4 linked regions of the Homo sapiens genome follow. The protein of the gene in region 2 interacts with the protein of the main gene of each other region in a pairwise test. Each region holds a gene or a part of one and is shown on either strand. Other genes may lie near its edges.

Region 1 (7,132 bases), on a different chromosome or scaffold from region 2:
ATTGCTTGAACCAGGGAGGCAGAAGTTGCAGTGAACGGAGATCGCGCCACTGCACTCTAGCCTGGCGACAAAGTGAGACTCTGTCTCAAAAAAAAAAAAAAAAAAAAGACTCCGTCACTGAGTGGGCCTCCTCGAAGGGCCTCCTCTAAGGGACTGGGAAGGGGACGTCAGGCCCTCGGTCGAGAATCTTGGACCGGTTTCCCCTCCCCTGCAGCCTTTGCTGCCACCTGCCTGAGCCCAGGTCAAAGCGGCCGCACCCATCTTAACTACGGGCAAGAGGCGCTGCCAAGGCCGCCTGGGAGGAACAGCAAGAGAAGACTTTTCCAGCAGGAACAAACTAGGTCAGCAACACCGGATCGATATTCAAGCTGTTCAATGCCTTTCTCTAAAATGAAGAGAAGCTGGACTGTCGCCAGCCATCTTTTCTTCTTCTTTTTTTTTTGAGACAAGAATCTCACTCTGTCACCCAGGCTGGAGTGCAGTGGCACGACCTCAGCTCACTTCAACCTCTGCCTCCCGGGTTCACACGCTTCTCCTGCCTCAGCCTCCCAAGTAGCTGGGATTACAGGCGTGTGCCACTATGCCCGGCTAATTTTTGTATTTTTAGTAGAGACGGAGTTTCACCACGTTGGTCAGGCTGGTCTTGAGTTCCTCACCTCAAGTGATCCACCCGCCTCGGCCTCCCAAAGTGCTGGGATTACAGGCGTGAGCCACCGTGCCCAGCCGCCAGCCATCTTTTCTAAGAGCGCTTTCATTTTTCTGGACTCCGGAACCACAGAGTTGCTCGCCGTCCTCTCTAGGCCCCACCCGAAGCTACTACCGGTCGTCGAGGCGTCCGTGGAACCTCCTGCACCCTACTCCCAGGGCAAACCCCCAGCGTCCCTCCGGGAGCCGCGGAGCCACTGGCCGCGCTCATGGCTCCAAGCCAATGAACCAGGGAAGGTGGAAGGGACGGAGACTGGGAAAGTGTCTGAGGACCGAGAGCTCCGCGGAAACGGCCGACTGCCGCTTCCTGGCGCAGTGGGGGTGTCTGCGGTATAGGGATGTTCGCGTCCTGATCCGGGACGCGATGCCGCGACCTGCGGCCACCTAGACGCGCTCAGCGGCGCCCGCCCCACCCGGATCCCCGAAAAGGGAAAGAAGTGGCTCTCCTCACTTATGCGGCAGGTTGAGCTGTTTCCTGAGATTCCCGCCAGATCACCCTCCCTGAAGTTCCCTCCAGGCTCCTCCACAGGGGCTCCCCTGGACCTCCTGTAAAACATTCACAGCCTGGTATACTGATATATTCTGAGTTAAAAACAGAGAAATTGTAGTTTCAGAAGGAGCAATCCGACCTGTTTCTTCTGCATGGAGCATGCCAGAAACCTTACTCTGGGGGAGTATCCTTCTGTACCAGGGCAAGAAAACAGCCCTGAGAAGCCACAAGGGACCAGAATAAACATACGTAACAAAGTCATCTGTATCTTGTACCTGTTTGACAACCCCCTGATACATATTCTAGTTACTCACTGCCCTAGCCAAATTTTCTTTGTCCTGTCATTTCTTTTTTCTTTTATTCTTTCTTTCTTTTATTTTTTATTTTTTATTTTTGAGACCGAGTCTTGCTCTGTCGCCCAGGCTGGAGTGCAGTGGCGCAATCTCGGCTCACTACAACCTCTGCCTCCCGGGTTCAAGCTATTCTCCTGCCTCAGCCTCCCAAGTAGTTGGGACTACAGGCACGCACCACCATGCCTGGCTCATTTTTGTATTTTCAGTAGAGACGGGGTTTCACCATGTTGGCCAGGATGGTCTCGATCTCTTGACCTCGTGATCCGGCCACCTCAGCCTCCCAAAGTGCTGGGATTACAGGCATGAGCCACCGGGCCGGCCCTCTTCTTCTTTTTTTTTTAAACGAAGTCTCTCTCCCGCCCAGGCTGGAGTGTAGTGGCTCAATCTTGGCTCACTGCCACCTCTGCCTCCCAGGTTCAAGTGAGTCTCCTGCCTCAGCCTCCTGAGTAGCTGGGATTACAGGAACCCACCACCACCCCCAGCTACCTTTTTTTTTTTAATTTTTAGTAAGGACGGGGTTTCCTGACCTCAAGTGATCTGCCCACCTCGGCCTCCCAAAGTGCTGGGATTACAGGCATGAGCCACCGCGTCTGCCCACTGAAATTTTATTGTTCTTTGTCTAAAAAATATAAAAGCACCTGGCTTTGGGCACTTTTTCTGACTTCCCTCTCTTGTGAAGATCCCCATGTACATGTAAAACTAATACAATTGGTATAATTTTCTCGTTTGTCCACTGTCAATTCATTTGTTCTTATTTTACTTTAGTTTATTTTTATTTTTATTTTTTGAAGATAGGGTTTCACTAACTTGCCCAGGCTGATCTCATACTCTTGGGCTCAAGGGATCCTCCTGCCTTTGCCTCCCAGTAGTTAGCATTACAGGCGATTCTCAATCTGGGCCTACATTCAACTAAAGAGCCCACCAAGAGCTAAAAGGCAGTTGGAGGCAACTCTGACTCCCATACACAGTAAGGGAGGAGACCATCCCTCATATTGTCTTACGCCCAATTTCTGCCTCCAAAGAAAGAAGAAGTAAAAACTCAAAGGCAGAAATGGAATCCACAGGCAGACAGCCTGGCGCCACACCCTGGGCCTGGTAAAGATCGACCTCTGACCTAATCAGTTTTGTTATTTATAGATTACAGACATTGTATAGAAAAGCACTGTGAAAATCCCTGTCCTGTCCTGTCCTGTTCTAATTACCAGTGCCTGCAGCACCCAGTCACATATCCCCTGCTTGTTCAATGGATCACGACCCTCTCACGGGGACCCCCTTAGAGTTGTGAGCCCTTAAAAGGGACAGGGATTGCTCACTCGGGGAGTCGGTTTTTGAGATGTGAGTCTTGCCGATGCTCCCAGCCGAATAAAACCCTTCCTTCAACTCGGTGTCTGAGGGGTTTTGTCTGTGGCTTGTCCTGCTACAACAGGACATGTATGAAGTCACGTGGAGCACAGAATAGACCATCAGAAAGTGAGAGAGAGGTCTGGGGGAGAGTTGGTGACATTTACTAGATAAAGACCCTAGGGGAAGCAGATTGGGGCAAGAAAGGGATGAGTTGGATTTGAGTAGAGGAGCCTTGGGCCATCTGTCCAGGGGCAGGATGTGAGGGGAGGTGAGAGCCCGGCTGCAGCTACAGGGAGACTGGCAATTGGGAGGCGTCCTGAGCAGCACATGGGAGAAGCTCCTAGAAGAGAGGACCCTCTGACTTTCTCAACCTTACCCTACTCTCCCCACTGCCTCCGCCATCTAGAAACTTCCAGAATTTCAGGCCCCAACAAGCCTACGATGGAGGAGGTTCTCCTGTATCCACTCCTTTTTCTTTCTTTCTTTCTTTTTTATTTTTGAGACAGAGTTTCGCTCTGTCGCCCAGGCTGGAGTGCGGTGAGGCAATCTCGGCTCACTGCAAACTCCGCCTCGCGCGTTCAAGCGATACTCCTGCCTCAGCCTCCCCAGTAGCTGGGATTACAGGTGCACGCCACCACACCTGGCTGTTTTTTTGTGTGTTTTTAGTGGAGACGGGGTTTCACCATGTTGGTGAGGCTGGTCTCGAACTTCTGACCTCAGTTGTTCCGCTGGCCTCGGCCTCCCAAACTGCTGATTACAAGCGTGAGCCACTGCGCCACGCCCACTCCATTGGTTTTTTTACACTCAACATTGGGAAGAGACTGCTGTTGCCCTGTTTCTGAGATAACAAGGACAAAACGAGAGAGTGATGAGCTGGAGCCCGATTATAAAACGGTCCACAAACGAAAACTAATGCCTGAGTTCAGTAAGGCCGGGAGGCCAGCTCACTCCCGCGAGGCGCTCTTTTGTTCGTGCAAACCGGGGCGGAGCTCTCTGCTGCACCGCCTCGCCGGGCCGGGGCGGAGCTCTCTGCTGCACCGCCTCGCCGGGCCGGGGACTAAACATGCGCGGCTAGTTTTCAAGGCCGGCCTCTGTATTAGTCACCGCGGCCATTTTGGATGAGGGTACGGAGAGAACGCGGACTGGAGATACCGGGGGCGTTGTCTTGGGCACGACTGCGTAGGGGCAAAGGTCGAGTACCCGCGCCGCCGCCATTTTTTATGAGGGCATATTCCATTTCTGATTATACACCCGCTGCCATCGGCACCGTTAGTTTCCACGCCCTCTAGTGCGCCCTCGGGGGCCCTAGTAACCTCCCTCCTTCCCTTGGGCCCGGGCCGGGGAGGCTTTCTCGGGCGCAGGAGGTTCCGCAGGCCCAGGCCAGGCCAGGGGAGGCAGCCGATCCGTCGTCGGGGTTGACAGTTACCATGGCGCCGCCTCTGGCCCCGCTCCCTCCCCGGGACCCAAACGGGGCCGGACCCGAGTGGAGGGAGCCGGGGGCTGTGAGCTTCGCGGACGTGGCCGTGTACTTCTGCCGGGAGGAGTGGGGCTGCTTGCGGCCAGCGCAGAGGGCCCTGTACCGGGACGTGATGCGGGAGACCTACGGCCACCTGAGCGCTCTCGGTGAGAGCCCCACCTGCTCGCCTGAGCCCTGCGCCCCCACAGGCCCTGCCGCGCCTCTGGGAGCTGCGCGTGAAGTTGGGGGCCCCGGGGCCGGGCAGGTGGCCTCCCCGCAGCGTGGGGTTTGCGTTCTTCTTCCCTAGGAATCGGAGGCAACAAGCCAGCTCTCATCTCCTGGGTGGAGGAGGAGGCCGAACTGTGGGGTCCGGCTGCCCAGGATCCGGAGGTGGCGAAATGTCAGACACAAACGGACCCAGGTGGAGTATCGGGTGCTCAGTCCCATGGGGACTTCTCTGTTCCTGTCCCATCCCGGTACCCTCTGCCACCTCCAGCTACCTGCTTAGCAGTTTCCTCTCTGAACTGCCTTCTCAACTGCGACGACGAGGCTGAGCCCCTGCGTGGCTCCCAGATGCAGCCTAGAAAGGAGCTGTGATGGGGGCTCTGGCCCTGCCATACCCGCCTCTGAGTCCTCACCTCTGCGTGGTCACTACACTCTGGGGGCTTTTTTTGGTGTTTTTGTTTTAGAGACAGGGTCTCGCTTTGTTGTCTAGGCTGAGTGCAGTGGCGGCATCATAGCTCACTGTAGCCTGGAACTCCCGGGCTTAAGCAGTCCTTCCACCTGGGCCTCCAGAGTAGCTAAGACTGTACAGGTGCTCGCCACGAAGCCTGGGTAATTTTTTTTTTTAGACAGAGTTTTACTCCGTTGCCCAGGCTGGAGTGCAGTGGTGCCATCTCAGTTCACTGCAACCTCCCACTCCCAGGTTCAAGTAATTCTCCTGTATCAACCTCCCAAGTAGCTGGGATTACAGGCGCCCGCCACCAAGCCTGCTTAATTTTTTTTTTTTTTTTTGAGACAGAGTCTTCCTCTGTCGCGCAGGCTGGAGTGCAGTGGCGCCATCTCGGCTCAGTGCAAGCTCCGCCTCCCTGGTTGACGCCATTCTCCCGCCTCAGCCTCCCCAGTAGCTGGGACTACAGGCGCCCGCCACCACGCCCGGCTAATTTTGTTTTTGTGTTTTTAGTAGAGATGGGGTTTCACCATGTTAGCCAGGCTGGTCTCGAACTTCTGACTTTGTGATCTGCCCGCCTCGGCCTCCCAAAGTGCTGGGATTACAGGCGTGAGCCACCGCGCCCAGCCAATTTTTTGTATTTTTAGTAGAGACAGGGTTTCACTATGTCGCCCAGGCTGGTCTTTAACTCCTGGAGCTAAGCGATTCGCCTGCTTCGGCCTTCCAAAGTGACCCACTGCGTCTGGCCTAATTGTTTTAAATTGTTATGTAATATATATATTTTATAGAGGGGGTCTTGGCTCTCGGTGTGTTGCCCAGGCTGGTCCTGAAATCCTAGGCTGATCCTCCTTCTCTACCTCCCAAAGCGCTGGGATTACCGCCTTGAGCCCCCACGCCCAGTCTCTTAAACTCTGTTGACTCTACCTCCACCTCAGGACCCACCCCTGCCGTTCACCTGCAGGCTGGTTCCTTTCTCCCCGTCCGCCCCCCTTTTTTTCTTTCATTTCTTGCCCTCAGCCTTTGCAGAGTATCCAGCCCCACTGAACTTGGCCATGCCCTCCTGGTTCTGCCTTTCTTGGTGCTGTTCCTGCTGCCTGGAACATCCTCAGGTGTCCGTTCCTCCTTCTGGATCAGGCCCAGATGTTCATGTCATCTCTGCCCTTCCCCCACCGTGACATTTCCCCAGCCCCGAGGCGGAATGGGCTGTTCTCTCCCTCCCGGCTCTGTCTGGCTCTGCAGCCGAGGAACAGGTGTCACTCCTCCATCTCCCAGGAGCAGCCGGGGATCCAGCAGGCCTGTCCCTGTCCACGCGGGCTGTGGGATTCAAGGACCAGGATGAGCCGAGCCTGAACTCTCCCCTCTTTATCTCTCAGCAGATTCCAGAAACAAGAAAAAGGAAAGACAAAGGGAAGGGACGGGAGCCCTGGAGAAGCCCGACCCTGTGGCCGCCGGGTCTCCTGGGCTGAAGTCTCCCCAAGCCCCCTCGGCCGGGCCCCCTTATGGTTGGGAGCAGCTGTCCAAGGCACCGCACCGGGGACGCCCCTCCCTCTGTGCCCACCCCCCTGTCCCCCGAGCTGACCAGCGTCATGGCTGCTACGTGTGCGGGAAGAGCTTTGCCTGGCGCTCCACACTGGTGGAGCACGTCTACAGTCACACTGGCGAGAAGCCCTTCCACTGCACTGACTGCGGCAAGGGCTTCGGCCACGCTTCCTCCCTGAGCAAACACCGGGCCATCCATCGTGGGGAGCGGCCCCACCGCTGTCTGGAGTGTGGCCGGGCCTTCACGCAGCGCTCGGCGCTGACTTCGCACCTGCGCGTCCACACCGGCGAGAAACCCTATGGCTGCGCCGACTGTGGCCGCCGCTTCAGCCAGAGCTCTGCCCTCTACCAGCACCGGCGCGTGCACAGCGGCGAGACCCCCTTCCCCTGCCCGGACTGTGGCCGCGCCTTCGCCTACCCCTCGGACCTGCGGCGCCACGTGCGCACCCACACCGGCGAGAAGCCCTACCCGTGCCCGGACTGCGGGCGCTGCTTCCGCCAGAGCTCGGAGATGGCAGCCCACAGGCGCACCCACAGCGGCGAGAAGCCCTACCCCTGCCCGCAGTGCGGCCGCC
Region 2 (6,605 bases):
ACTGGTGTCTTAGATTGGGTCCCCACTGGAGCCGACCCAGGAGTATATTTGGGAGGTGGTCCCAAGAAGTGCTGTATGGAACACGAAAAATGCTCCAGGAAAGGGAGGGAAGTGAATACAAGATGAGTTAATGATCAGAATAGCCCTGTAGGTAGCTGGAATTTGGTGTCTCTGAGGACCACTGACATGCTGGTACAACATGCTCCCAACTGGAGGAGAAATAACTAAAGCATGTGTTCACCAACTCTCACTCATTTGTTGAATACTATTCCAAGAGGCTTTAACTCTACAGTCCAGAGCTTGCTCCTTGGCTAGAGAAACTCTTCAAGAAGAGAGTTCCAGGTGCTTGCTCTAAGAAACCACCATTGTATATTAGAATAAAGTGTGCTGAGGAAATAGAGGTGGTGCCCCTGAAATTACATTCTGCAGAGAAGAACAACAGAAAAATTGACTGGTAATTGACCACACTCAAAAAAGAAAAATAATGAGACACAGTATCTGTATATTTCTATGCCTGAAAATTTATTTAAGATTTATTTAGATAAATATTTGTTTAAAATGGAATAGCTCCATATGAGAAATTATGGCAGAGAGCAAATATTTCAATTAAGATAGTTGACAGATTTCAGAGCAAATTACAACTTATGTTCATTTGGTAGAGAGGTAAAATGTGGGGGGAGCATATATTTGGAGGCCAGATTCAATCTAAGAATTGGTTGGAACTGAAGTTTTCCAACTAGCTTCCCATAACTCAGCTCATAGATGAGCTACATCAAGAATGCTGGTTGATGAGAATCTGGTGAGTCCAGATGACAGCCTCAGCAGCAAGAAGCACTAGAGCAGGTTGGGCGGCAGCACATGGTCTGGCAGCAGTTGGGGCGGCAGCAACTGGAGATGCAGCAGGAGAGCCTGCAGCAGCTGAAGCCACAGCAGGAGGAGCTACTGCTGCTAGAGATACTGCAGGAAGGCTGGCAGCAGCTGGAAATGCAATAGCTGGGGTGGCAGCAGGTGGTCCTGTAGCAGGTGGTTTGCCAGCAGATGGGCTAGCAGCATAGAGACTGGCCACAATGGGGCCTGTAGCACCTGGACACACAGCAGCTGGGGCGGCAGCAGGTGGTTCTGCAGCAGGTGGTCTGGCAGCACTGGGGTCTGCAGCAGCTGGACACACAGTAGCTGGGGCAGCAGCAGGTGGGCTGGCAGCACACAGACTGGCAGCACTGGGGCCTGCAGCAGCTGGGGCGGCAGCAGGTGGTCCTACAGCAGGTAGTCTGGCAGCATTGGGGTCTGCAGCAGGTGGGCTGGCAGCACACAGACTGGCAGCACTGGGGTCTGCAGCAGCTGGACACACAGCAGCTGGGGTGGCAGCAGGTGGTCCTGCAGCAGGTGGTCTGGCAGCACTGGGGTCTGCAGCAGCTGGACACACAGCAGCTGGGGCGGCAGCAGGTGGTCCTGCAGCAGGTGGTCTGGCAGTAGCTGGGACGGCAGCAGTTCTCTAGGCCACAGCCCTGGTCAGAGCACACAGAGCCACAACAGGAGTTGACCATGGTGTCAGAGGGTGGAGGTTCTGGGTGGGTTTCCAGGAAGGAGGGTTTGGAAGGCTTGGAAGTCTCCTTGCCCCAGATCCTCTTTTATACCCTGCTCAGGGCTGATGTCATCGGATGCAGCACTCTTTCCTTGTCATTGTTTGTTCTGATGAGCAGGCAATTATCAAATTAGGCAAGTTTGTTTTTCTGCTTAAATTTGTCAACATGGAGAAAAGCATTATTTCCTTCCCCTGGTGTGTTAGGATTCTTCAGGTCAGCTCTTCTTGAACAACCTCTTGTGTGCCTCTTGCTGCAGCTTCCTCCTTGAGCTGCCATGTGACATCTGCCTGCAGGTACCATGTGCTGCAGCCTCATTTTCCTTAATACATTATGTCTGACCTTGGGTGATTTTAATTCTTCTAGGCCCGTAATTTTCTTTTGGTGACTCAGGAGGAGAAAGCTGTGCTTTAATCTCATGGCATGTTTGTTATAGATCAAGTGAGCAATGAAGGTTTGAATGTGAAACAGGTGACCAGTGGCATGAAAACAAATACTATTAGGATATATTCCTTGCCACCTTCCATACAATGAATCATGACCCATTTTCTAGATGTTCTACTGGGGAAAGCAGAATTGTTTTAAGGTGGACATCTAAGTCATGAATTATCGATGCTTCTTTTTCTTGAGAAACAACACTCCAAAACTCAGTTTCAGGGCCTTTAGGGGAAATTGGCTACAGAGATCAGCTATACTAAAAGGTTCAGGTCCCTCCGCTCTCTGCTCTGAGGGGCTGATTTTCCTTCTGACTTTTCCTTCCTGTCTCTCTGGCTTTAACAATCACATTGAGTCATCTCCTCTATTTCTAAGGTTTACTTGCCAACCTAAGGTAAAGGACCCAGTGTCCTTGCTATATATATATAATATATATATATATATATAATATATATTATATATATACATATATATACTATATATAGTATACACACACACGTATATACACACTATATATAAATATACACACTATATATAAATATGCACACTATATATAAATATACACACATACACACACATATATGTGTGTGTATGTATGTGTGTGTATGTGTGCGTGTGTGTGTGTATATATATATATATATATATATATACACACACACACGCACACATACACACACATTATGTCTGACCTTGGGTGATTTTAATTCTTCTAGGCCCATAATTTTCTTTTGATGTATATGTATATATATATATACACTCACACACACACAGGTTTGGGGGAATATATATATTCTGCCAAAGGACCTTAGGAATATATATATATATTATACATATATAGATGGGTAGATAGAGAACCTTATATATAGGTAATATAGGAATATATATATTTACATATTTATGAATATATAATATATATTCTTCATATATGTTTGTATTTAATAGTATGTATAAATATATATATAATATATACAATAACATATTTAGAAATATATATATTTATATATATATGTATTTACCTTTATCTCCTAAGGCCCTTTACCTTAGGAATATTATGCACACACACACACACACACACTCAAACACACACACACACACACTCCCCCAAACCTGGATGTTAAAGAAACCCAAGGAAGAAGGCAGAAACTTCCTGTCTTTGTGCCACCCTCCACTTTGGGATGCTCTTGGGTTAGCAATTTCTGTTTGGACTGGTCTCTCTGAGGATACTATGGACACCCCAACTCTGCTGAGGGTCTTTCCATAAAACATGCTCATCTAAATATTTGGGGGCCATGAAGGTAAGAAAAAGTGAATATGCCAAATGGCAGAACCATGTTTCCAAAACTACAGAAATACTCTCACAAGGAATCAAACCTAACAAGATGAAATATCAGAACCAATTGTAGATCAAATGAGTGGTTATTAATGCAGCATGGCAAACGAGATTGGGGAGGAGTGAATATATCTAAATTTACTGGGAGTATTTATTTAACTATACACACACCCTAAGGTTGTGTCCCCTCTTAGCATCCCTTCACCAGATAGAATATTACAAGTTGAGGACATCTTATCTGAAAATCTGAAATCTGAAATTCTCCAAAACCCAAACCTTTTTGAGTACCTATATGATGCTCAAAGAAAATGCCCAATAGAACATTTAGGATTTCATGTTTTTGCATTAGGGATGCTCAACAAGTATAATGCGAATATTCCAACTCTGAAAAAACTTGACATTTGAAACACTTCTGGTGCCAAGCATTTCAGATATGGGGTACTCAACCTGGATCACCACAATGAGCTCTATTACTGCAGGCATGCAGTAGAAAGGCAGGTTGAGAACTTCTCGTCTAGAAACAACCACTGTATGTGTATAAGAAGACCTTGAAGCAGTTTATGATGAGGATTACTTAGGTGTGTCACACTTTAGTAACCTCAGTATTAGTTCACACTTACTGCCAACCACTTACTGCCACTAACACTGTGTTAACTCCTGCATGCAAACTTGAAACATTCATGAAAGTGGAACATTTACTAAGGTAGATGAGGCATTTCTAATCCTCCAAGAGTGTTCAGAACACATCTGGAAAATGCATTTCAATCCAGGCTAGAAGGATAAAGATAAATTGGGGTTTATGAAAAGCAAAGTTGCTGTGAGGGTGGCATTATGATCAATGAGGAACAAATGGAAACACTTTGGAAATGTAACCTAAAAAGGAGAAAAGTGGAACAAAGCAATGGCAGTGCAGCCTGAAGGGGCTCTGTATGAGAATGGACTTCCTCAGATGGCTGCCATGGGCTGATATAGGATAGGGAAGATAGGATGTTCCTAGGGAGAAACAAAATCTGACACAACATGAGGAAGGTGCTTTATGAAATGGCTGCCTCTAGAGATAATCAGGGGAGGGGGTTTCAGTGTGAGCTGGTGTTTCTGACTGAGGCACATGCAAGAGCCAGATGGAGGGAATTGGATGAAATTACTTTGAGCTTCCCTCTCTGCACTCAGGTCCATGTAAGTCTAATAAGTGGAATATAATGTTATACTGTTAACCAGTTTCTACTGCTGCCCTGGTCCTGATTTCCAGGCTTACACAACCAGGATGATAACAATCTGGCTCCTGAGTGGGCCCCTGCTTCAGCACTGGCTGGTGTTCTGAGTCTGCACTGGCTCTGATGCACCCAGACACAGCATCGTATTGAGGTCCTGAGCCTTTGTCCTCAGTCAGAATGAACAGAAGCAGGTTCCAAGCTGTTACGGGGTTAAAACCCTGGTGAGCCCGTTTATGGTGTATGAGAACAACTCTAAGATTTCCTCGAGAACTTGAATTATGGGAAAAGAATCACATCCTTGAAGAACCCTGATGACTGGTACCTACCGATGACTCAGTGGAGATCACTTTTATTTACATGAATTGACTATTTTTTTTCTTTGTAAGGTGAGCGTGTGTGTTTTGCTTAATGTAAATTTGCATTATGTTTAGAAATCTCTCACGATTTCTTCTAGTACTTCAGCACTTTCATTTTTCCCCAGCTTTATTGAGGTAGAGTTGGCAAATAAAATTTTATGTATATCAAGGGTACAACATGATGCCTTGATATGTATATATTGTGAGATGATTATCACAACCAAGTTAGTTAATACCTATCACCTCACGTAGTTATTGTTTCCTGTGTGTGTAATGAGAACAATTAAGATCTACTTTTTCAGAAAATTTCAAGTACTCAATACAGTATTATTAACTATAATCACCATGCTAGTTACTAGATCCCTAGAATTTAGTACCAATGTCAGATTTTGGGATTTGACATGTACTATGATCCTATGAGAAGCAACCACTGAGGGAAACTGAGTGAAGGGTACAGGGAACTTTGTCTTATTCAACTTCATGTTAATCTATAGTTATTTCAAAATCTATCGTTATTTACAAAAGTAAAAAAAAAAGAGGCTAATTGGTAGTAAAAGACAGCATGCTTTTTTTTTGGATATTTTCATATATTTATTCTTATTTTTCATGTGTCTATGTTTAACTACATGGGATTTTTTTTTCGATGTGTGGATATGTATATAGGAAAATTCAGAGATTATTCTTTTTAAGATTGGGTAATTGGCCAGTTTGTGAGCATTTACAGTGTTTTAAATAACTTTTATCTTTCAATTAGAAACACACATCAGGCATATCATACACTCTGTCATCATTTTTCCAATAGTTATACATGTACTTTATTTTCCTTATCTTATTGAGTAGTTCATAAGACTTTTGTTTAAAATACTTTCTGTAAAACTCGGAGACAATAAGGTGGGGCTCTGCATTTATGTTCTTGTTGAGTTCTTAGTAGTCCGAATCTTATGCAATTCACCAACTATATTTCTACAAGCAATGTAAATTGGGAAAAAAATCGGGTACTGAAATATTTATTTTTATAAATGAGCTAAACTTAAAAATGATCCAAAGGGTAAGTTCACAGCAAGCATTCATTTCTTTTCCCTCCATGTAATTTGCATGCAAGTCAGGCATTTTCACATATTTTTATAAATCTTTTTCTTGATTTGTTCTCCTTCTTACAATAATTTTAATACACAATTATTTTTACTCTAGTTAATGGGATTTTTTAAGTGCCCTGAATTCCATTTCAGAACTATGAAGGGAATTAAATATTTATGTTACATGGATAATAGTATTCAATATTCATCAAAGCATGCAAAATAAGCAATTAAGAATATGCAACTGTATCCCATTATGAACATATCCTTGATACGCCTTCCAAACTTAAATTCCAAATTCTTTCTGCTATTCAGCTAGAAGTTTTTGCTAATATTTTCTTCATGGAAAATTGTATTTTCTGCATTGATTAATAATTAATAACAAAAAAATTTCCATTTTTTGAAATAGCCTATTTCTTATTAATTTTTTAATCATTCAATTACCCCCCAGCTTATACAAAGAATTATATAGTAATTATTTTTTAACAGTTAACAAGTCACAGTAGGTTTGGGTTATAACGAACATACTGTGGCTTACAAGATAATATGGAATAGTGGCTAACCCATGAATATAGTGAGAAAACTTTTTAAAAGTTATATTGGAGTAATCCCTT
Region 3 (7,027 bases), on a different chromosome or scaffold from region 2:
AGCTAGGACTACGGGCATGCGCCACCACAACTGGCTAATTTTTTTTTTTTTTGTATTTTTCGTAGAGATAGGGTTTCACCATGTTGGCCAGGCTGGTCTCAAATTCCTGACCTCAGGTGATCCACCCACCTCAGCCCCCCAGAGTGCTGGGATTATAGGCATGTGCCACCGTGCCCGGCCCAACTTTCACTTTTTAAATGTAGCCTGTGATTAATAACAAACCTAATGTCAGCAAAATAAATGTCAATGGTGACAGTAATGTAACTCTCTACTTTACCTTGCAGATTAGATTTTTAAAATCTTGTTCCATATCTACTACTTTATATGCTGTTGGCCTATAAACCAGTTTTAAAGATTGCCATTACAGCTCACAAAACAGTTTACATGGAATCACATTATTATACTCATACAATATGTATTTATAAGTGGCATTTGTTTGAATGTAACAACTAATAACAAACAGTAATATTATTTATAGCTACCATTTATCAATCATCTACTAAGCGGCATCATTGTGATGGATGCTCTATATCATGATCTCCATTCCTCACAATAATTTACAATATAAGTTTTCACTACATTATATAATGAGGAAACTGAGGCTCAGAGATGCTAAGTGACTACTCTAAGGCCACATAAAAACTAAGCAGCAGAACAGGAATTTGAAGCTGGGCCCATATGGCTACAAAACCCAAGCTCCTTCTAGCACACTGTTGCAATGAAGAATAAGAAAATGCTTTCATCTTACCCATAGTCATCTATCAGGTGAGAGCCAAGTACCACAACATCAAGTTCAAAGAACTCAGGTTCGGTTTTAATGCCAAACATGATCGGGGCAAGTTTAGAATAATCTGCACGGTTACAAGTAGCAACACAAACCCGCAGCTTTCGGTTATTTCCATTCTTCTCCATGATTTGCTTGTTTCGTTTTGAGAGGTTCTTAAAATAGAGTTCCTGAAATTGCCAAAATAAAAACTTTATAATCAGAATAACTCCTAGATATAACTAAACTTTAAACTTCTCTAAATCAGAAATAGAAATTTTCAGTTTCAAGTCCTTAACCACTATTTAGTACAGTGATTCTTAATCTTTTTTTGCACCTCCACTTATGTGTGACTCTCCCATTGGTATATCCAGAGTTAAGAAACTCCAAGGCTGGGAGTGGTGGCTTACGCCTGTAATCCCAGCACTTTGGGAGGCCGAGGTGGGCAGATCACGAGGTCAGGAGATCAAGACCATCCTGGCTAACGTGGTGAAACCCCGTCTCTACTAAAAAATACAAAAAAAAAAATTAGCTGGGCGTGGTGGCGGGTACCTGTAGTCCCAGCTACTCGGGAGGTTGAGGCAGAAGAATGGCGTGAACCCAGGAGGCGGAGCTTGCAGTGAGCTGAGATCGCACCACCACACTCCAGCCTGGGTGACAGAGCGAGACTCCATCTCAAAAAAAAAAAAAGAAGAAGAAACTCCAGCAAACTAACTGTAACACCACCCCATCCTCTCACACTCAAGAAAACACACTGGAATGCCATTAAGAAGGAGTGATATAAATCAGCTCTTGTTTAAAAGGTGAGGAAATATCAGCTCTTTATTATTAAAAATTACTTGCCATAACTCACAGATGAGCCCAACATAGTAGGTTGTTGCAAAATCAGTTGTTGAGAACCACTGATCTAGTTCAACTCCATCACTTTATAGAAAGGGAAACACAGGTCTTGAGAGGGAAAATTACTGCCCCAACATTCCAGATCATGTCTCATAAGGAACACAGGCTATTCACTCTCACACTATACACTTCCTAAATACAAGGTATTGTGATTAATGCTGGGCAGGAGAAAGATGAGTAAGATAAAAACCTGACCTTCAAGCCCTCATTAGTACCTACACACCAGTGCCAACAAAACTGACAACTCCAAATGCCTATCAGATATCTCCTGCTGTATGTCCTATAAACACCTTAAAGTCAGTGTCCCAAACTGAACTCATTTTCTTTTCGGAAGCTGTTCCTCCTCAATTGTTCTCTGAGTTATGCAATTTCATTCATCCAAATGCCTTCAAATCCTTGTCTTTTCTGTTCTTCACCCCATATCTCCAAAATGCTGTCAATTCCACCCCCTAAATATCTTTCAAATCTATCTCCTCCTCTTCATCCATACAAGGACTTCCCCTAGTCCAGTCCCTCATTTTAGGTCTGGACGATCTTAACAGCTGTCAAGTGGTTTGCCTGTCTCCTATAAACTTTCTTACTTATTTATTTAGAGACAAAGTCTCACTCTGTCGCCCAGGTTGGAGTGCAGTGGCACGAGCTTGGCTCACTACTACCTCCGCCTCCCAGATTCAAGCAATTCTCCTGCCTCAGCCTCCCGAGTAGCTGGGATTATAGGTGCCCACCACCATGCCCAGCTAATTTTTGTATTTTTAGTAGAGATGGGGTTTTGCCATGTTGGCCAGGCTGGTCTTGAACTCCTGGCCTCAAGTGATCCACCCACCTCGGCCTCCCAAAGTGCTGGGATTACAGGCAAGAGCCATTGCGCCCGGCCTCCTACAAACTTTCAAAGTGATCTTCCTTTCCACCATCTCTTCCCTGCCTAAAATTACCCTTCTCTGTGCCAAAGTGCCAGCCATACCAAACTGCCTCCAGTTCAACTAGTGAATCTCCGTATATCTATACCTTTATAGATGCCACCTACTTTTTCCTAAAACTTCCTTTCCTCCTTGCTGGTCTTCTACTCATCCTTCAAAACTCCATCTAAGTGTCATCCTTTCTGGAAAGGCTTCACACAAACCTCAGGTCCTCCTCCCCCACGTTTCTCAGTTGCTGCCTCGCTCTGAGCGTTATGGCCCTCCCATTCACAGATATACTGTTGCTCAGCTCCACTGCTCGCTCATCCCTCCCTGCCATGCTATACCCTCCATTCAAAAAGTAAAATCAGGGGCAAGGAATAAGAGATTTGTTTTATGGAATTTTTTAAAAAGTTTTTACATTTTTGGAGATGGGATCTTGCTATGTTGCCCAAGCTAGAGTGCAGTAGCTATTCACAAGCACGATCATAGCTCATTGCAGCCTGGAACTCCTGGGCTCAAGCAACCCCCCCACCTCAGCCTCCTAAGTAGCTGGAACTACAGGCATACACCACTGAGCCAGACTTGGAACATGTTAAACTTCTCTAAATCAACATAAAATTTCACCTCATGGACTCTGATCTCAATGTTCATGTTTCAGTAAGTGTATCAATATTTAGAACTTGTAATCAGGAATCCAGAGACACTTCAGTAAGGATTCCAATTCTAGGGGTGCCATCCTTTAGATGAGGGTAAACTCTGAAATTCACTGGAAATTCCATCAGTAGCCCTCTGCTGTTGGTACCTCAACACTCTCTTAGGCTAAAATTCTGTGACCATGCAAACGGTCCCATCATTAGGTCCACTCTGAATTTATAATCCCCAGTAAAAGCTAATTTCACCCAATGGCAAACACTTACAATATAACGAAACGGGCATTCCACCAAGAGAGTTATATTCAGAAGACCCAAGCACTATCTGATCTTTTTTTTTTTTTTTTTGAGACAGAGTCTTGCTCTGCCACCCAGGCTGGAGTGCAGTGGTGCAATCTCGGCTCACTGCGACCTCCGCCTCCTGGGTTCAAGCAATTCTCCTGCCTCAGCCTCCCGAGTAGCTGGGATTACATGCATGTGCCACCATGCTGGGCTAATTTTTTCTATTTTTAGTAGACATGGGGTTTCACCATGCTAGCCAGACTGGTCTCGAACTCCTGACCTCATGATCCACCCGCCTCGGCCTCCCAAAGTGCTGGGATTACAGGCATGAGCCACCGCACGTGGCCGCACTATCTAATCTTTAAAGAGACAAAAATATTCTTCCAAAAATGGTTGTCGTAAGTGTTCTTGTATATAATCCTTCTTCCAGTGATCAAATTTGAGCTGAAAAAATTGTTGGTAATATTTAATTTGCTGAGGCAAAACAAATCATTCATGGTTTGTCAATTTGTATTTATTTTACAAAGAACAGTAAATGTTCCATCTGGCAGTACTAAAATGCTTATTTACCAGGTTACTCAAAGGTTATTCTACCTAAACTGAGAGCAAGCTGGCCATATAAATAAATGGTGAAAAATACAACAATGTTACCTAGAAACCTAAAAAACCTTAAAAAGTCAAAGCTTTTTCAAGGAAAGAAGTTAAATCTTAAAAATAAAATTAAGGTAAAATGCCTTTTTAAGGGGAGGTTTTAAAAAATAATTTTAATTAACTAAATTTTTGATCAGGTAGTATATTCACATGGTTTAAAATTGAAAAGTCACAAGAGGTTAAGTAGCAATAAGTCTTTTCATCTGTGTTCCCCAGCTAGCTAGTTCTTTTCCCTGGAAGCAGTTACTGGTTTCCTATCTGTCCTTCCATGGATAAACTATGATAATATAAATAAATATATGGCTCACGCCTGTAATCCCAACACTTTGGGAGGCCGAGCTGGGTGGATCACGAGAGGTCAGGAATTCAAGAACAGCCTGGCCAACATGGTGAAACCCCATCTCTACTAAACATACAAAAAAAATTAGCCAGGTGTTGTGGCACACACCTATAGTCCCAGCTACTTGGGAGGCTGAGGCAGGAGAATCACTTGAACACATGAGGCGGAGCTTGCGGTGAGCCAAGATGGTGCCACTGCACTCCAACCTGGGCAACAGAATAAGTCTCTATCTAAATATATATATATATGATGTGTATATATATGATGTATGTATGTGTATACATACACACATACACAACGTATATTACAAAATTGGTAACATATTCTATAAACTGTTGGGGCAAAGCTTACTTTTTTTTTTTTTTAAAATACAGTCTCCCTCTGTTGCCCAGGCTAGAGTGCAGTGACATGACCTTGGCTCACTGCAACTTCCACCTCCCCAGTTCAAGAGATTCTTGTGCCTCAGCCTCCTGAGTAGCTGGGATTACAGGTGCCCGCCACCACACCCACCAAATTTTTTTGTATTTTTAGCAGAGACGGGGTTTCACCATGTTGTCCAGGCCAGTCTCAAACTCCTGACCTCACATGATCCACCCACCTCGGCCTCCCAACGTGCTAGGATTACAGGCATGAGCCACCGCGCCCAGCCACAAATCTTACTTTTTAAAATGCTTTTAATTATGACTCAAATGGTAGAATGAGAACATTTAAAGATATTGGAAATATCAAATCTAAAAGTGCAAAATTTTGGAAATTGCTGGCCATCAGCTTTTCAAATATACAAAGAGTTATAAGAGCCCTAAAATTTAGCAAAAACATTCAACTTTGGCTGGGCACAGTGGCTCATGCCTGTAATCCCAGCACTTTGGGAGGCTGAGGTGGGCGGATCACCTGAGGTCACGAGTTGGAGACCAGCCTGGCCAACATGGTGAAACCCCATCTCTACTAAAAATACAAAACTTAGCAGGGTGTGGTGGCGTGCACCTGCAATCCCAGCACTGAGGAGGCTGTGGCAGGAGAGTTGCTTGAACCTGGGAGGCGGAGGTTGCAGTGAGCCGAGATTACACCATTGCATTCCAGCCTGGGAGACTGATCGAGACTCCATTTCAAAAAAAGAAAAAGAAAAATTAGCCAGGCATGGTAGCGCGTGCCTGTAATCCCAGCTGCTTGGGAGGCTGAGGCACAAGAATCGCTTGAACCCAGGAGGCAGAGGTTGCAGTGAGCTGAGATCGCACCACTGCACTCCAGCCTGGGCAAAAGAGTGAGACTTTGTCTCAAAATAAATAAATAAATAAATAAATAAAAACAAGAAATCTGGCTGGACATGGTGGCTCATGCCTGTAATCCCAGCACTTTGGGAGGCTGAGGCAAGAAGGACTCCTTGAAGTCAGGAGTTCAAGACCAGCCTGGGCAACATAGCAAGACTCCTGTCTCTACAAACAAATTTTTTTTAATTAGCTGAGTGTGGTTGTGCACACCTGCGGTCCTAGCTATTTGGGAGGCTGAGGCAGGAAGATCACTTTAGCCCAGGAGTTTGAGGCTGTAGTGAGTTATGATCATGCCACCGCACTCCAGCCTGAAAGACTGAGCAAGACCCTATCTTTAAAAAAATTAAAATTTAAATCCAGCCTGGGGCAAGTAAATTTCCTTTTGTAAGGAGGCAATCACTTTTCATCAGTACTTACAATGGACAGTCTTGAGTTGAGAGAATGCAAAAAGCTGCTTTCAAGAATTGAGTTTCGGCCGGGCGCAGTGGCTCACGCCTGTAATCCCAGCACTTTGGGAGGACGAGGCGGGCGGATCACCTGAGGCCAGGAGTTCAAGACCTGCCTGGCTAACATGGCAAAACCCCATCTCTACTAAAAATACAAAAATTAGCCAGGCATGGTGGCAGGCGCCTGTAATCCCAGCTACTGGGGAGGCTGAGGCAGGAGAATCACTTGAACCCGGGAGGCGGAGGTTGCAGTGAGCCGAGATCCTGCCACTGCACTCCAGCCTGGGCAACAAGAGTGAGATTCCATCTCAAAAAAAAATAATTGGGTTTCTCAGATTGCCAGTGAGTTCAAGATGAAGGCAAGCTTGTCTATAAACCTGGCCTTAGGTAACATTGTTCTATTTTTCAGTTTACTCATATGGCCAGCTTGCTCTCAGTTTAGGTAGAATAACCTTTGAGTAACTGGTAAGTACGAGGCATTTTAGTACTGCCAGATGGAACATTTACTGTTCTTTGTAAAATAAATATAAATTGACAAACCATGAATGATTTGTTTTGCCTCACAGTATTTTTCTTTTTTCTTGAGACGGAGTGTCACTCTGTTGCCCAGGCTGGAGTGCAGTGGTGCGACCTCAGCTCACTGTAACCTCCACCTCCCGGGTTCAATCAATTCTCCTGCCTCAGCCTCCCAAGTAGCTGGGATTACAGGCGCACGCCACCATGCCTGGCTAATTTTTGTATTTTTTTAGTTGAGACGCGGTTTCAACTAAACCAGGCTGTTCTCGAACTCTTGACCTCAAGTCATCTGCCTTGGCCTTGCCTCACAAA
Region 4 (7,192 bases), on a different chromosome or scaffold from region 2:
AATCACTTTTTTGAAGTGCCAGCCAAACTCTTCTTCAGAGAAGCCTGTTTGAAACCCCCTAGAGTCAAAACCTGGTACCACAGGACAGAGCAGCAATGAGTGACCAACCCCTGACTCTATGTGCAGATGACACATCCATCCCCAGATTAGGTATCAACATAAGTGAAAGGTACTGTCATTGCCTGTCATTTTTTTTTTTTTTGAGATGGAGTCTCACTTTGTCACCCAGGCTGGAGTGCAGTGGCACGATCTTGGCTCACTGCAACCTCTGCCTCCTGGGTTCAAGCTATTGTCCTGCCTCAGCCTCCCAAGTAGCTGGGATTACAGGTGCCCGCCACCACACCCGGCTAATTTTTGTATTTTTAGTAGAGACGGCGTTTCACCATGTTGGCCAGGCTAGTCTTGAACTCCTGACCTTGTGATCCACCTGCCTCGGCCTCCCAAAGTGCTGGGATTACAGGCGTGAGCTACTGCACCCAGCCCATTGCCTATCAGTTTTTATAGAGTGTCGCTTAGATCAAGAAAGAGATGGTAATACAGAGTTAGGTGTGTCTGAAACCAAACACGACCTCATCCTTCTCCCTTGAAGGCCAAATGCACTCTGAGAGTTTGGTTAGAGTACAAACAACGCCACCAACTTCACTCCAGATGTGATTTTCTACAGGAGGCGGGCACTGTGTTGGGATGGCCAGTGAAGGTAAGGAACACTAGAGGTGCAGGTTTAGGTGATGAACAGGACACAGCCTGGACATTATTAGCCTTGACTATGGAGGTGTCTTGATGTTTCTCAAATTGAGACCAGTCTGGCCAACAGGATACTGAACTGGTTTTCGATGGAAAAATTCATCTGTATAGGGATCTATTCGCTTCCTTTAAGTTTCAGTTTCGTTATGTGGCATTTAGCATGAGTGACTCCATTTTGGTCTGATCTGGTTTCTAAGTGCCTAGTGCAGAAGCTCAGTCCAAAACAATGGCCTCCCATAATGTTCATTTTAACATTTTCTTTATACTAATACATTATATCAGGTCACCTCAAATGTCACCTCCACAGAGGGTTCTTCCTCTCACCTCAGTTAGTCCTACTTCTTTCCATTCAGTTTTTTGTTACACTGCACTTTTTAGGATCTGGGAAATCTAATCAAAGTTCACAGGGTTTATTGCTTATTCTTTTTCTTTTTCTTTTTCTTTTTTTGAGACAGAGTCTCTCTTTGTCGCTGCCCAGGCTGGAGTGCAATGGTGTGATCTCGGCTCATTGCAACCTCCACCTTCCAGGTTCAAGCGATTCTCCTGCTTCAGCCTCCTTAGTAGCTGGGATTACAGGCATGCACCACCACACTCAGCTAATTTTTGTATTTTTAGTAGAGATGGGGTTTCACCATGTTGGCTAGGCTGGTCTCGAACTCCCAACCTCAGGTGATCCACTCACCTCAGCCTCCCAAAGTGCTGGGATTACAGGCATGACCACTATGCCCAGCCAGGTTCATTACTTTTTAAAAATCAATCTATGAAAAATTAAATTGGCCAGGCATGGTGCCTCAGAACCTGTAATCCCAGCACTTTAGGAAGCTAAAGTGGGAGGGTCACTTGAGGCCAGGAGTTGGAGAGCAGTCTGGGCAACACAGTGAAACCCCATCTGTACAAAAAATACAAAAATTCGCTGGGCTTGGTGGCGCACACCTGTGGTCCCAGGCTCTACTTGGGAGGCTGAGGTGGGAGAATTGCTTGAGTCCGGAAGATCAAGGCTGCAGTGAGCTCTGTTTGCACCACTGTACTCCAGCCTGGGTGACAGAGGGAGACCTTGTAAAAAAAAAAAAAGAAAGAAAGAAAGAAAGAAAGAAAGAAAGAGAGAGAGAGAGAGGGAGAGAGAGAAAGAAAGAAAGAAAGAAAGAAAGAAAGAAAGAAAGAAAGAAAGAAAGAAAGAAAGAAAGAAAGAAAGAAGAAAAGAAAAGAAAAATCATGTAAATGAAACCAAATTCAGTGATGTTACCTTAACTTTTTTTCTTTTTTCGGGTAGAGACAGGGTCCCACTATGTTGCCCAGGCTGGTCTCAAACTCCTGGCCTCAAGCGATCCTCCTACCTTGGCCTTCCAAAATGCTGGTATTACTGGTGTGAGCCACCACACCTGTCCTACCTTTATTTCTAATAACTGATATGCCTTACATTAAAAAGTCTTTTAGAAAACACCTTTGAGCCATTTTCCAGATAGGGGAAGTCAATGAAGCTCCCTCTTGTGGTGAGGGCGACTTTAACATCCACACATCCTGTCTGGGGGACTGGATTTCTGAGTTGTGCTGAGACTTAAGAGTGGAAAAAAAGTCTACTCTTTTTCCTCTGCTCTCACACAACACGGAATACTTCTGTGACCAAATGCAAATATTTGAGAAGTGTCCCCCACATGCCAAGCAAAGCATCAATTCTGCAACTGACTCCAGCTCGATGTCTTCTAGTTCCAACACTTTCTACCTTTACATAAGGTACAAAACTGCCTCAGAAATCATCTGACCATGTGTCCCGGTTTGCCAGTGATAATCCTTGATAGTACCTGTTGTCCCAACATAGTTTTTCATAGCACCTCATCTTGCCATGGTTATCTGTGTCTGAACAATGAATATGTATGAATACTTTCACACATAAGCAAAATTAGGTTTATTAAATGAAGTTTCCAGGAATGTTCAAATTTCAACACCTGATTTACCTTATCACAAGTTATGGCTGTGCTAATTTCTCCAGGAAATATTCACAGAATATTGAATTTATCATTGTAAGGTGTGGAGCAATGAAGATGCCCAAGAGGCCAGGCGCACACCTGTAATCCCAACACTTTGGGAGGCTGAGGCTGGAGGATCACTTAAGCTCAGGAGTTTGAGATCAACCTGAACAACCGAATGAGACCTCATCTCTACCAAAAATAAAAAACTAGCCAGGCATGGTGGCAGGCACTTGTAGTCCCACCTACTTAGGAGGCTGAGGTGGGAGGATTGCTTGAGTCTGGGAGGTTGAGGCTGCATTGAGTAGCCATCGCACCACTGCACTCCAGCTTGGGCGACAGAGTGAGACCCCGTCTCAAAAAAAGATGGCTAAAACATAATTTTTTTTTTTTTGAGATGGAGTCTCACTGTGTCTCAGGCTGGAATGCAGTGGCACGATCTTGGCTCACTGCAAACTCTGCCTCCCGGTTCAAGCAATTCTCCTGCCTCAGCCTTTCAAGTAGCTGGGATTACAGGCATGCGCCACCATTCCTGGCTAATTTTTGTATTTTTAGTAGAGATAGGATTTCACCATGTTGGCCAGGCTGGTCTTGAACTCCTGACCTCGTGATCCACCTGCCTCAGCCTCTCAAAGTGCTGGGATTACAGGCATGAGCCACCGCGCCCGGCCTGCCTAAATCATAATTTCTATGACAGAATTTCTCATTTACAGCTTCCCCTGAGACCATCTTTCATTTCAGTTAACCCTGCTCCTTGGGGGTTATATGTGAGATAAAAGTGCCATGCTATATCATGTTCCCTGGCTCAGTCCTACACAGCATGTCCTGAAAAATGGGTCTTCAGTCACTGTCAATGCACCAGGGATAGATATACATAGTACTGAGAGCCTCTAAATCTTTAATAAGTTCTGGCTTGGTTAGCTCCCTTACAAGGAAAACCTTGCTGGAGTCCATAGCAGTGTGAGGAAGCCTTGGCCATGCCTCATCCCATTTCCCGCACGCTGGAAGACATCTGCCTCTCTCTCCTGGTGCAGTCGTGCCTTGCCTGGTCTGGGCTCCCCTCCTGCTCTGAGGCAAGCGTATCTCTCCATTGAACACTGAGTCTGAAATGCCCTGCACACACTTGTGATCCCGTGCAGAAGGAAGGAGCAGGGACAGCCCCTTGAATGAGGAAGCTAACAGTGCCTCTTCTAACAATAAGGAGCAAGTCGCCTTGAAATGCAAATATCTGATGACCAGGGCTCAAGGAAGGCGCTCGCTTAGAGAGGCTGTTCGCTTAGAGAGGCTGCTCGCTTAGAGAGGCTGCTCGCTCAGAGACGCTGTGGCCAGAACAAGTCAGACATGATCTGCAGGACCCGGTTACCCAGGGCTTCTGCTGTCACTCAGCACGGAGGAGGCGGGGCCTGGCGCCCCATCCAATCAGGGGTGCTGGGGCGGGGCCCTGTCAACTGTCCATCCGGGGAAGGGGGAAGGGACAGTCGCCCTCCGTCCATTCCTTTAGTGCTGCGCCGACAGCGGTCAGGATCTCGGCTTTCTTGCTTCGAGAGGGACTAGGTGCCTCCACCAGAGCTTCTGTCGCTCTGTAACCTGCACTGTGACCTACACTAGTCGCGGGAGCCACGCAGAGGACGCCGGAACACCCTGGAAGCCGAGAAATGGTGTGTGTGAGGGGGCTGGCGTCCGGGCGACTGGGAGAGGGGCTGGAATCGGCCGGAACCGGCTGAGGCGGGACCCGGGCCTCCACGCGGCGACTCCGGGGTCGTGGACGCGAGTCCCCTCGGTCGCAGGGTGGGGCTGGGCCGGCAGCCGGGACCCCGGGCCTCCTGTCCCGTCCCTTCACGGCGACTGCGGCCCCGGCTCCGGAGCCTAATCTGGGCAGCTCCGCGTCTCCCCACATTATGCGGGGGCCACGGGAGGGATATGGGGGGATCCCGCCTCGGATATGGGGTTTGTTAGAAACAAGTGCCCGGTGCCGCAAAGAAAACCAGCATCTAGGCAGAAAATTCCTCAGCAAAGCAAATTTATTTCTACACAAGGGTGCAGCTTGCGCCAGTCACAAGAGCACAGCGAGCGGGGTAGGGCAGGGGTTTTTCTCCTTAACGCAGTTTCTAGCACTTCTGTGTCCTTTCCTCATTGGCTAGGGTTGGACCTCACAATCTAAACTAACTCGATAGGCTAAGGTTTAAAATTAAATAGGGTCTGGCCAGGCGCGGTGGGTCACGCCTGTAACCCCAGCACTTTGGGAGGCCGAGGCAGGCGGATCGCGAGGTCAGGAGATCGAGACCATCCCTGGCTAACACGGTGAAACCCCGTCTCCACTAAAAATACAAAAAAATTAACTGGGTATGGTGGCGGGCGCCTGTAGTTCCAGCTACTCGGGAGGCTGAGGCAGGAGAATGGCGTGAACCCGGGAGGTGGAGCTTGCAGTGAGCCGAGATCGCACCACTGTACTCCAGCCTGGGCAACAGAGCGAGACAACTGGGCAACTCCGTCACACACACACACACACACACACACACACACACACACACACAAATTAAATAGGGTCTATGAGACGGGAAGGAACAGGGACTGTCCGTTACTAGGCGGGAAGGCGTATCTGGACTTGTCTGGGCGCGGCAAAAGCGGGAAGGTTGTTTACAGAACAGGTAGCTAGGAGACAAGGAAGTCGGTCTCAAGAAACAAAGAACAGCTTACTAAAGCTTTTAGAAAAGTAATTTATCATCTCTGACAGGTTCGTGTGGGAGGAGTAGCGGTCTTTGGGGTCCCCAGTGCCCACTTTTTTCTGTTAAAAATTAAACTGAGGTACGTTAACAATTAAAGAGTTTAGGGCCGGGCGCGGTGGCTCACGCCTGTAATCCCAGCACTTTGGGAGGCCGAGGCGGGCGGATCAGGAAGTCAGGAGTTCAAGACCAGCCTGGCCAACATGGTGAAACCCCATCTCTACTAAAAATACAAAAATTAGCTGGGCATGGTGGCGCGTGCCTGTAATCCCAGCTACTTGAGAGGCTGAGGCAGAAGAATTGCTTGAACCCAGGAGGCGGCGGTTGCAGTCAGCCAAGACGGCGTCACTCCAGCCTGGCAACAGAGCCAGACTCCATCTCAAAACAACAACAACGATTCACGAATGAGAAACACCCAGTCCTGGCTTGTGGTTTGTCAACGGAAAAAGCCAAGCTATGTAAAATAAAGAAGTTTATTAGGAGCCGAATAGGAGAGCCGTTGGCCGAGGGAAACACAACCCCAAGCAGCCTGGAGTAAGTGGTCCCGAGGCAGCTCAAGACAGTTTGGTTTTATTCATTTCAGAGAGACAGGAATTGCAGGGAAAATCATGAATCAGTGCCTGGAAGGTGTAAGTTCCATTGGCAGAAAGGGTGGGACCTGTGGAAGGGGGGTTAGAAGGCACAGGTAGTTGAGGGATTCTGTAGGTGGCAGCTGGTTGAGAGTGTTGAATCTTTGTCTAAAGTTTGGAGGAGGTAGGAAGGAATGCTGAAGGAAGGGGGTCTGTTATCTGCCACTTCATTCCATCCCAGCCAAAAAACAGACCTGTTTCTCGAGATTTTATGAATTCTAAGGCGTAACTTTACCTTTGCCTTGCGTGGCCTTAGGTCTTGTTTGTAATTTGGTATCTTGTTGCCACAAGGAGTCTGTTTTTCCAGTCAGATAATGTCTGTTTTTACATGAATGTGCGTCAGTTGCTGCATGTAAACTCCTAAAGGGAGAGGGTATAAGGAGACCTGTCTCACCTCCCATCCTGTCATACAGAGGCACTCAATTTTCAGGGTTTTTTGGGGGTTCCCTTGGCCAAGAGCCAGTCACTTCACTTAGCTGGGAAGGTACTTTGTTTTTGTTTTTGTTTGAGACAGAGTCTCCTGTAGCCCAGGGTGGTGTGCAGTGGCTCTATCTTGGCTCACTGCAACCTCCACCTTCCGGGTTCAAGCGATTCTCCTGCCTCAGCTTCCCGAGTGGCTGGGATTACAGGCATGTGCCACCACACCCGGCTAATTTTTGTATTTTTAGTAGAGATGGGGTTTCACCATGTTGGCCAGGCTGTTCCTGAACTCCTGACCTCAAGTGATCCACTGGCCTCGGCCTCCCAAAATGCTGGGATTACATGTGTGAGCCACCTCACCAGGCCAGAAGGTATGTTTTTATTTTTAGTTTACAGGTTGAAGGCTGGACTTTTATAAGGTACATGAGGAGACAAACCAGATAAATGCTTGATTGGTTGCAGAGATGCAGTCACCTTATTTGGACTTGTCAACCCGAAATAATCGAAAGTTTCAGATTTCAACTGGAAGAGTTTATTCAAGCAAAAAGATAGCAATGGCCCATTTGGGAAAAACACAGACTCCAGAGAAATGGACTCAGTACTCCAAAATTGGAAGTTAAGTTCTTGCTTATATTACTGGGAAAAGAGGTCCTGATCAGATCCCAAGAGAGTTCTTGGATCTCATACAGGAAGGAATTCAAGACGAGTCGGA

The links.
Region 1: the proteins of KRTAP4-4 (region 2) and ZNF764 interact in binary tests that used the Homo sapiens proteins (3 or more experiments, as listed by UniProt).
Region 3: the proteins of KRTAP4-4 (region 2) and GNE interact in binary tests that used the Homo sapiens proteins (3 or more experiments, as listed by UniProt).
Region 4: the proteins of KRTAP4-4 (region 2) and ZNF440 interact in binary tests that used the Homo sapiens proteins (3 or more experiments, as listed by UniProt).

Annotation. Positions count from the first base shown.
Region 1 is NC_000016.10:30,555,370-30,562,501, reverse strand, and holds the start of ZNF764 (zinc finger protein 764), read left to right. Parts: upstream 1-4,127; 5' UTR 4,128-4,319; coding exon 4,320-4,515; intron 4,516-4,655; coding exon 4,656-4,769; intron 4,770-6,391; coding exon of another isoform or gene 6,392-6,394; coding exon 6,395-7,132. UniProt on the Homo sapiens protein: Zinc finger protein that functions as a cofactor for steroid hormone receptors, such as NR3C1/GR.
Region 2 is NC_000017.11:41,159,148-41,165,752, forward strand, and holds KRTAP4-4 (keratin-associated protein 4-4), read right to left. Parts: upstream 1,602-6,605; 5' UTR 1,545-1,601; coding exon 1,044-1,544; 3' UTR 502-1,043; downstream 1-501.
Region 3 is NC_000009.12:36,248,444-36,255,470, forward strand, and holds part of GNE (bifunctional UDP-N-acetylglucosamine 2-epimerase/N-acetylmannosamine kinase), read right to left. Parts: intron 955-7,027; coding exon of another isoform or gene 913-954; coding exon 749-912; intron 1-748. UniProt on the Homo sapiens protein: Bifunctional enzyme that possesses both UDP-N-acetylglucosamine 2-epimerase and N-acetylmannosamine kinase activities, and serves as the initiator of the biosynthetic pathway leading to the production of N-acetylneuraminic acid (NeuAc), a critical precursor in the synthesis of sialic acids.
Region 4 is NC_000019.10:11,810,085-11,817,276, forward strand, and holds the start of ZNF440 (zinc finger protein 440), read left to right. Parts: upstream 1-4,188; 5' UTR 4,189-4,363; coding exon 4,364-4,366; intron 4,367-7,192. UniProt on the Homo sapiens protein: May be involved in transcriptional regulation.